Regions from separate parts of the Homo sapiens genome. Here region 2 is linked to region 1. The links come from fine-mapping of genetic effects on gene expression. A gene starts in region 1. The other region holds a variant in brackets. All regions are shown on one strand. Distances are between the middles of the regions.

What was found. PIP is the estimated chance that this variant, and not a neighbour inherited with it, causes the effect.
Region 2: its variant is fine-mapped to the expression of MADCAM1 in adrenal gland (GTEx, PIP above 0.99).

The regions. Positions count from the first base shown.
Region 1 is chr19:494,350-498,717 of GRCh38, forward strand. MADCAM1 (mucosal vascular addressin cell adhesion molecule 1) reads left to right here and starts at 2,137. Exons shown (of 5, transcript NM_130760.3): 1 at 2,137-2,202; 2 at 3,484-3,768; 3 at 4,147-4,368. The coding sequence starts at 2,151. RefSeq lists a silencer at 1,455-1,504.
Region 2 is chr19:1,477,518-1,481,885 of GRCh38, forward strand. C19orf25 (chromosome 19 open reading frame 25) reads right to left here and starts at 1,698. Exons shown (of 3, transcript NM_152482.3): 1 at 1,646-1,698; 2 at 1,257-1,388. The coding sequence starts at 1,386. PCSK4 (proprotein convertase subtilisin/kexin type 4) reads right to left here. Exons shown (of 15, transcript NM_017573.5): 15 at 3,911-4,368. The coding sequence ends at 4,242. RefSeq lists enhancers at 883-1,383, 1,745-1,864 and a silencer at 1,475-1,524. The variant C/T (reference allele first, on the strand shown) is at 2,575.

The DNA.
Region 1 (4,368 bases):
AACAGCCCATTCACCAGGCCTGCTGCCCCCCGCCCGGGTTAAGGGCCCAGCTTCCCGGGAAGGGCCTGCACCTCCGGCCTGGGGAGGGCCCCTCCTCGGAGTCTGCTTTCCGGTGAGGCCTTTCCCGGCACCAGCCTGGGCAGGAGGGGGATGGGACCCAGGGAGACAGGGCTGTGAGCTCACACACCTGGGCCCTCACCTCTGAGGGGACTGTTTCCCCACCCCGGGCCTCAGTTTCCCTCCTCTAGGCCTCAGTTTCTCTCCTTTGCACCCAGCCCCTCCTCTAGGCCTCAGTTTCCCTCCTCAGCACCCAGCCCCTCCCCCGAGCCTCATTTTGCCTCCTCTGCACCCAGCCCCTCCCCTAGGCCTCAGTTTCCCTCCTTTGCACCCAGGCCCTGCCCTGGATCTCAGTTTCCCTCCTCTGGTCCCAGCCCCACCCCTGGGCCTCAGTTTCCCTCCTCTGATCCCAGCCCCTCCTCTGGGCCTCAGTTTCCCTCCTCTGGTCCCAGCCCCGCCCCTGGGCCTCAGTTTCCCTCCTCTGATCCCAGCCCCTCCTCTGGGCCTCAGTTTTCCTCCTCTGGTCCCAGCCCCGCCCCTGGGCCTCAGTTTCCCTCCTCTGGTCCCAGCCCTGCCCCTGGGCCTCAGTTTCCCTCCTCTGACAGGTAAGCCGATTGGCAATGCTTGGAACCCCATGGACTGGCTGCTGCTTTTTATTCCATGGCCAGGGAAACTGAGGCACAGACAGACCCTGAGGTCAGCAGGAATGCTCCATCATTTTATTCCCGCGTGCCTGCGGTGCATGGGGTCCAGGGTCACAGGACCGGCCCCTGGGTGGAGGGGAGCCAGCCATCACGACTGCCACCACAGGCCCTCATTGAGCTAGGAGCAGAGCACCCTGGGAACCACAGCGGAGGAGGGTGGGGGGCGAGGGGGTGAGGGGGTGGGCAGAACCTGGGTAAGGTGAGGAGCAGCCCGGGCAGAGTCCCAGAGGCCCTGGGAGGGTCCCGGTGATGCAGGGGGGTAAACAAGCCACCAGCGGAGACAGAACCAGTGTGCGGGGCTTGGAGGAACAGGTGGGTGGATTCCAGTGCGTTTGGAAGATGAGGTTCCCAGGACTCGCTGATGGCAGCTGTGAGTGGGAGTCCAGCCAGCATCCCTTCCAGATCCCTCTTGTGGACCGAGATCCAGGTCTCAGTGTAGACCAAGGAACAGAGGCAGCCCCTACTCGGGCTCCCAGGCTCCAGCCAGGCCTGCTAGGTGGGCGGCCTCTGCCCGTGTGATGGAAGGAAGCCAGGCTCAGAGATGGGGTGACTTGTCCCACGTCCTGGAGGGTCTCACAGCTCCACCACGGCCAGGAGACTTCAGTCCAGGGGGCCTCCATCCCCAGCGACCTTCACCTGACCCCCAGGGGACCCCAGCCAACAAGACCCGGCCTGCAGCTCCGGAACGGGGGAGGGCTGCTCTCCACCGCCCCTGTGCGGCCGCCCGGGAAAGTGCAGGCGGGCCGGGCGCGGTGGCTCACGCCTGTGATCTCAGCACTTTGGGAGGCCGAGGTGGGCGGATCACCTGAGGTCGGGAGTTCGAGGCCAGCCTGCCCAACATGGAGAAACCCTGTCTCTACTAAAGATACAAAATTAGCCAGGCGTGGTGACGCATGCCTGTAATCCCAGCTACTGGAGTGGCTGAGGCAGGAGAATCGCTTGAGCCCGGGAGACAGAGGTTGCGGTGAGCTGAGATCGCACCATTGCACTCCAGCCTGGGCAACAAGAGCGAAACTCAGAAAAAAAAGAAAAGAAAGTGCAGGGGACCCGCCGTCGGGGTGGGGGCGGCGCTGCCCAGCCTCTGTCCCACTTCCATGCACTTGACCTCGACCCTCCGGCCTCCGTCTGCGATCTTCCCGTGCCTGAATATGAGGCTTGGAACAGACCCAGACCTTCCTGCCTGCCCGTCCTGAGTGGCCCCGGGACCCCGCCCCATCTTTGGCCCCCAGCCCCTGCCTCTCTGCCGCCTCCAGGGTCGGGGGTCAGGCCAGGAAAGCCCCTTGGGAAGCCCCCGGGGAGCAGCTGGAGCGGGGTCGCCGGGCGGCGGGAAGGAGTGGGCGCCTCTATTTAAGCGGCTTCCCCGCGGCCTCGGGACAGAGGGGACTGAGCATGGATTTCGGACTGGCCCTCCTGCTGGCGGGGCTTCTGGGGCTCCTCCTCGGTGAGAAGGGGAGGGGGCGCGGGAGAGAGGAGTGAGTTAGGAGGGGGCTCAGGAGAGAGGAGGGGGCTCAGGAGAGGGGAGGGGGCTCAGGAGAGAGGAGAGGGCCCGGGAGAGAGGAGGGGGCCCAGGAGAGGGGAGGGGGCTCAGTAGAGTGGGGGGGCTCAGGAGAGAGGAGGGACGCAGGAGAGAGGAGGGGCGCAGGAGAGAGGAGGGGGCTCAGGAGAGTGGAGGGGGCTCAGGAGAGAGGAGGGGCGCAGGAGAGAGGAGGGGGCGCGGGAGAGAGGAGGGGGCGCGGAGGGGAGGGGGCGCAGGAGAGAGGAGGGGGCGCAGGAGAGTGGAGGGGGCGCGGGAGAGAGGAGGGGGCGCGGGAGAGGGGAGGGGGCTCGGGGGAGAGGAAGGGGCGCGGTGAGCGGGGAGGGGACGCGGGAGAGAGGAGGGAGTTAGGAGGGGGCTCAGGAGAGGGGAGGGGGCTCAGTAGAGTGGGGGGGCTCAGGAGAGAGGAGGGACGCAGGAGAGAGGAGGGGCGCAGGGGAGAGGAGGGGGCGCAGGAGAGTGGAGGGGGCTCAGGAGAGAGAAGGGGCTCAGGAGAGAGAAGGGGCGCAGGAGAGAGGAGGGGCGCGGAGGGGAGGGGGCGCAGGAGAGAGCAGGGGGCGCAGTAAAGTGAAGAGGACTCAGGAGAGAGGAGGGGGCGCGGGAGAGGGGAGGGGGTTTGGAAGAGAAGGGGGGCTCGGGAGAGGGGAGGGGGCTCGGGAGAGGGGAGGGGGTTCGGAAGAGAAGGGGGGCCCGGGAGAGGGGAGGGGGCCCGGGGGAGAGGAAGGGGCGCGGTGAGCGGGGAGGGGACGCGGGAGAGAGGAGGGAGTTAAGAGGGGGCGCAGGAGAGAGGAGGGGCTCGGAGGGGGCGCGGGAGAGACGAGGGGTGCTCAGAGTTAAGGGGCTCCGAGATAGGGGGTGATTGGTGATCCTGCCAGAGGAGGGGGCTCGGAGGAGGCAGGGGCTGAGAGGGGAAGTTGCGGGGCTCCGCGCGGCCCCCTGACCCGCAGCGAAACTGGCTCCAGGCAGCTGGGGTTCGGGGGACTGGGGCAGAGGCGGCGGTCGGGGCGGGGTTCAGGGACCGAGCCTGGGAGTCCGGGTAGCGGCGGGGCAGGGGTCCGGGGGTGCAGCGGAGGGTCCGGGAACCGGGCAGAGGCGGGGCGGGGTCCGGGGGTGGAGCGGGACGCAGGGCCGGTGGCGGGGCGGGGTCCGGGACTCCGCGGGGCTGAGCGAGAGCCGCGGTCGCCGCAGGCCAGTCCCTCCAGGTGAAGCCCCTGCAGGTGGAGCCCCCGGAGCCGGTGGTGGCCGTGGCCTTGGGCGCCTCGCGCCAGCTCACCTGCCGCCTGGCCTGCGCGGACCGCGGGGCCTCGGTGCAGTGGCGGGGCCTGGACACCAGCCTGGGCGCGGTGCAGTCGGACACGGGCCGCAGCGTCCTCACCGTGCGCAACGCCTCGCTGTCGGCGGCCGGGACCCGCGTGTGCGTGGGCTCCTGCGGGGGCCGCACCTTCCAGCACACCGTGCAGCTCCTTGTGTACGGTGAGGCGTCCCCCCGCGCCCTGCCTCTCTGACCCTTGGACTCCCGGCTCCTTCCCTATGCCACCTCTTCCTGGAAGCCTCCCAGATTGCAGGCAGGGTCCCAGCTCCATGCACAGCTCCCCGAAGCCAGGTCCCCGGCCTTCGCTTCCCTCCAACTCACCCCAACTCTCCCAGGGCCGGCCCTGGCCCATCCTCCTGTCTATTCCAGCCTCCCAGGGTGGGGCCACGGGGCCTGCGCACAGGCCGTCCCTACTGCCTGTTCATCAGCAGCCCCCACGCATCCTTGGCCCCAGCTCCAAGCCCCTCCGGGCTCCGGCCCCTCCATCACGTCCAGCCCTGACTCTGGGCTCAGCCCTCACCCCCGACCCTCCATCACAGCCTTCCCGGACCAGCTGACCGTCTCCCCAGCAGCCCTGGTGCCTGGTGACCCGGAGGTGGCCTGTACGGCCCACAAAGTCACGCCCGTGGACCCCAACGCGCTCTCCTTCTCCCTGCTCGTCGGGGGCCAGGAACTGGAGGGGGCGCAAGCCCTGGGCCCGGAGGTGCAGGAGGAGGAGGAGGAGCCCCAGGGGGACGAGGACGTGCTGTTCAGGGTGACAG
Region 2 (4,368 bases), 980 kb after region 1:
CACCTCGTAAATCAGGAGTGGACAAGCTTTCCTGCCAAAGGCTGGAGTCTCTGCTCCCACTACTCAACTCTGCCCTTCTGGTGTGAGAGCAGCCACTAACCGTATGTGAATCATTTGGCTGTGTGCCGTAAACCTTTACTTACCAACACTGAAATCTGAATTTCATACCTCTTTCAGGTGTCAGAAATGTTCTTTTTCACCCACCCCCATTTAAAAATGTGAAGTCCATTCATAGCTCCCAGACCTTAAAAAAACAGCCAGGGGCAGGGTTTGGGGGGCCCTAGCTTACCACCTCTGTTTTACTTTATTTATTTCTATTTATTAATTATTATTATAATTATTGAAACAGAGTCTCACTGTGGTCCAGGCTGGAGTGCAGTTGCGTGATCTCAGCTCACTGCAACCTCCGACTCCCAGGTTCAAGTGATTCTCCTGCCTCAGTCTCCTGAGTGGCTGGGATTACAGGCCCATGCCACCACACCCGGCTAATTTTTGTATTTTTAGTAGAGACAAGGTTCCACCATGTTGGCCAGGCTGGTGTCCAACCTCTGACCTCAAGTGATCCACCCACCTCGGCCTCCCAAAGTGCTGGGATTATAGGCGTGAGCCACCGCACCGGCCACTTATTTATTTTTGAGACACAGTCTGGCTGTGTTGCCTAGGCTGTATCCTCCCACTTTAGCCTCCAAGAAGCTGGGGCTACAAGTGTCCACCACCACACCCAGTAATTTTTTTTTTTTTTTGAGACAGTCTCGCACTGTCACCTGGGCTGGAGTGCAGTGGTGCGATCTCGGCTCACTGCAAACTCTGCATCCCGGGTTCAAGCGATTCTCCTGCCTCAGCCTCCCGAGTAGCTGAGATTACAGGCGCCTGCCACTATGCCCAGCTAACTCTGTTTTGTTTTTGTTTTTGTTTTTGTTTTGTTTTTTCATTTTTAGCAGAGACGGGGTTTCACCATGTTGGCCAGGCTGGTCTCGAACTCCTGGGCTCAAGCGATCCTCCCGCCTCATCCTCCGAAAGTGCTGGGCTTACAGGCCTGAACCACAGCGCCCGGCCTCCACCCCTGTCAGAAGAACCCTCTGAAAATCGGTCCCACTCTACGGAGGAGTAGAGGGAGACTCGGAGAGGATACGGACCGTGCCCATGTTGCGGGGGTTCCCAGGGCGTGGGGTCAGGAGTTAGGGGTGTGCTTCTCTCCCGTCCCCTTGCTGCCGGGGTCTCAGGTCCGCTTTTCCCCGGGACCGGGCTCCCCCTACCTTCCGGGGCCAGGATGGTGAACACTGGATCCTCTGCCGGCGCACCCCGCACATCCTCCAGGATCTGCTCCACCGTGGGGGGCGCTGGGCGGGTGGGCAGCAGCACGCGCTTCTTTGCCTTGGAGCCCATCTCTGAAGGCGGGGAAGGGGGCGCTGACCGGGGCGTCCACCTCTCCGCCCTTGCCCGGGCTGCTCCTCCCGCCCAGCGAACTCGTACGCACCCGTCGCGGTCCCGCTCCCGGGGAAGCCCGCCCTGTCCCGCCCCTCTGAGCTCGCCCCAGGCCCTGACCCTCCCTCCGCCCAAAAACACGGTGGCCAAGGCTTCAGGGTCTGGCTCAACCTCTGCCTCAGTTTCCCCGCGGTCACCCCAGTCGCCGGCCTCTTCCCACCTGGGCGCGGGACCCGAAAGCCCAGCGTCGACGACGCAGCCACTTCCGATTCCGGTCGGAGCACCGCCCCGTCCCCGAACACGTGACACACACTTCCGGCCTCCTCTCCCGCCGGCCCGCCGCTCATCGCGGGGCTCCGCCCCGTCTTAAAGGGATAGTGCCCTTGAGACTCGGATCTCAGCCTCTCAGGCGAACCCGAACCTGGACGCGCTACGATGAGAGCGAGTTCGAGTCCAGGCTCCACTGGCTGGGTAGAAAAGCATCCGAGGCTCGTCTTTCTGAAAAGGGGAACACGGCACTAGGGGACACGCCACCCATGTGGCTGACGGGAGCACAAAATTGCTGTCCACCTAAGGGAGCCTGGTGGTGCATGAGCACTCGGCGGCCGGAACACAGCGGGGGCGGGGCGGTCGCGGCGCCTCCACTTCCGGCCAAGGCGGGTCCTCCCACCTCGGGGACGGTGCTGGAGGTCACCTTTTCCTCTCCGCTGATGCCTGGGAAGGCAGAAAGAGCAGAGGGCCCTTTTCCTCTCTCAGGGGCTTTATTGAGATGCAGTTTACATACCATAAAGTTCTCCTGTTTATTTCGTTTTGTTTTGTTTTTTTAGAGACAGAGTCTCACTGTGTCGCCCAGGCCGGAGTGCAGTGGCGTGATCTCAGCTCACTGCAACCTCCGCCTCCCGAGTTCAAGCAATTCTCCTGCCTCAGCCTCCCGAGTAGCTGGGACTACAGGCGCCCGCCACCACGTCCGTCAAAATTTTTTTTTGTATTTTAGTAGAGATGGGGCTTCACTGTGTTGCCCAGGCTGGTGTCAAACTCCTGAGCTCAGGCAATCCGCCCGCCTCAGCCTCCCAAAGTGCTGGGATTACGGGCGTGAGCCACCGCGCCCGGCCAAATTCGCCTGTTTAAACTGTAAATTCAGCCTGGGCG[C/T]GGTGGCTCATGCCTGTAATCCCAGCACTTTGGGAGGCCGAGGCGGGCAGATCACTTGAGGCCAGTTTGAGACCAGCCTGGCCAACATGGTGAGACCCCGTCTCTACTAAAAATACAAAAATTAGGCTGGGTGTGTTGGCTCACGCCTGTAATCCCAGCGCTTTGGGAGGCCGAGGTGGGTGGATCACGAGGTCAGGAGATCAAGACCATCCTGGCTAACATGGTGAAACCCTGTCTCTACTAAAAATACAAAAAGAAAAACAAAATTAACCAGGCATGGTGGCGGTTGCCTGTAGTCCCAGCTACTCAGGAGGCTGGGGCAGGAGAATGGCATGAACCCGAGAGGCAGAGCTTGCAGTGAGCCGAGATCGTGCCACTGCACTCCAGCCTGGGCGACAGAGCAAGACTCTGTCTCAAAAAAAAAAATATTGTTGAGAGAGAAGGAAGGAAGGAAGGGACAGAGAGAGGGAAAAGGAAAGAAAGAGAAAGAAAGGAAAGAAGGAAGGAGAAGAAAAAGGAAGGAAGGAGAGAGAGAAAGAAAAAAAAGAAAAAGGAAATAAAGAGAAGAAAGTAAAGAAGAAAAGGGAGAAAAGAAAGGAAAGGAAGGAAAGAGAAGGAAGAACGGAAGAAAGGAAGGCGAGAGAGAAAGAAAAAGAAAAGAAAGAGGAAGAAAGAAAAAGGAAAGAGAAAGAAGGAAAGAAAGAAAGAAAAGGAAAGGAAGGAAGGGGCCAGGTGCGGTGGCTCAAGCCTGTAATCCCAGCACTTTGGGAGGCCGAGGTGGGCGAATCACGAGGTCAGGAGATCGAGACCATCCTGGCCAACATGGTGAAACCCATCTCTACTAAAAAAGGAAGGAAAGAGAAGGAAGAAAGGAAGGAAAGAAGGAAGGAAGTAAAGAAAAGGAAGGAAGGGAGGGAGGGAGGAAAGGGCCAGGCACAGTGGCTCACGCCTGTAATCCCAGCACTTTGGGAGGCCAAGGAGGGAAGATTGCTTGAGGCCAGGGTTCAAGGCTGCAGTGAGCTACAATCGCACCACTGTACTCTAGCCTAGTCAACGTAGGGAGACCCTGTCTCAAAACAAACAAGAAAAAAAACAAAGGAATCACCGCAGGAGAGGATTCTGGGCCATGGTGAGCCATGTTCTGGGGCTGGACATTACTGCTGACCCCCGGCCATTCCCTGCTGTTCCCACTGCCTGGGGTCCCTGGGCCTGGGCGGACTCTTTCTCCGTGGCCGGCTGCATTCTCCATGGACTGATGTCCGGGGACCCCAAGCAGAAACCACCTGAGCCCTGGGGCCTCGGGCCCACCCTGCTCCAGAGGAGGCCACAGACTGAGCACCTTCTAAGCAACCTTTATTTGCAAACTCTGAGGTTGGACGCGGTGCCCGAGGCGGACAGTGTCACGTTTCTCTCCCTCCACTTTCCCCTGGCTTTTGGGGTGCTCCAGCCTCTCCCCCCAGCCCACTCCCGCCCAAACCCAAAATGCAGAGGAGACTTCTCTCTCTCTCTCTCCCGCCAGGCTTCGGGGTTCCACGGGGCCCATCCCTGGCAGGCCAGGCGTCGGGTGCTGGTGCTCGCTCCTCTGGGGCCAGCCTGGGGAGGCAGCATGGCAGCAGTGCCTGTCAGGGACCCAGGCGGGGGCAAGGTCGCTTTCTGAGCTGACAACTTCAGGTTCCAGCTGGCAGCCAGACCTGGGGTTTGGTGGGGGTGGCCCTGGCACGGGAGAGCCAGGCGTATAGTGGGAGGTCCATGGACATGCCGCAGAGGACGGGGCCTCCGAGGGTCACGGCCAGG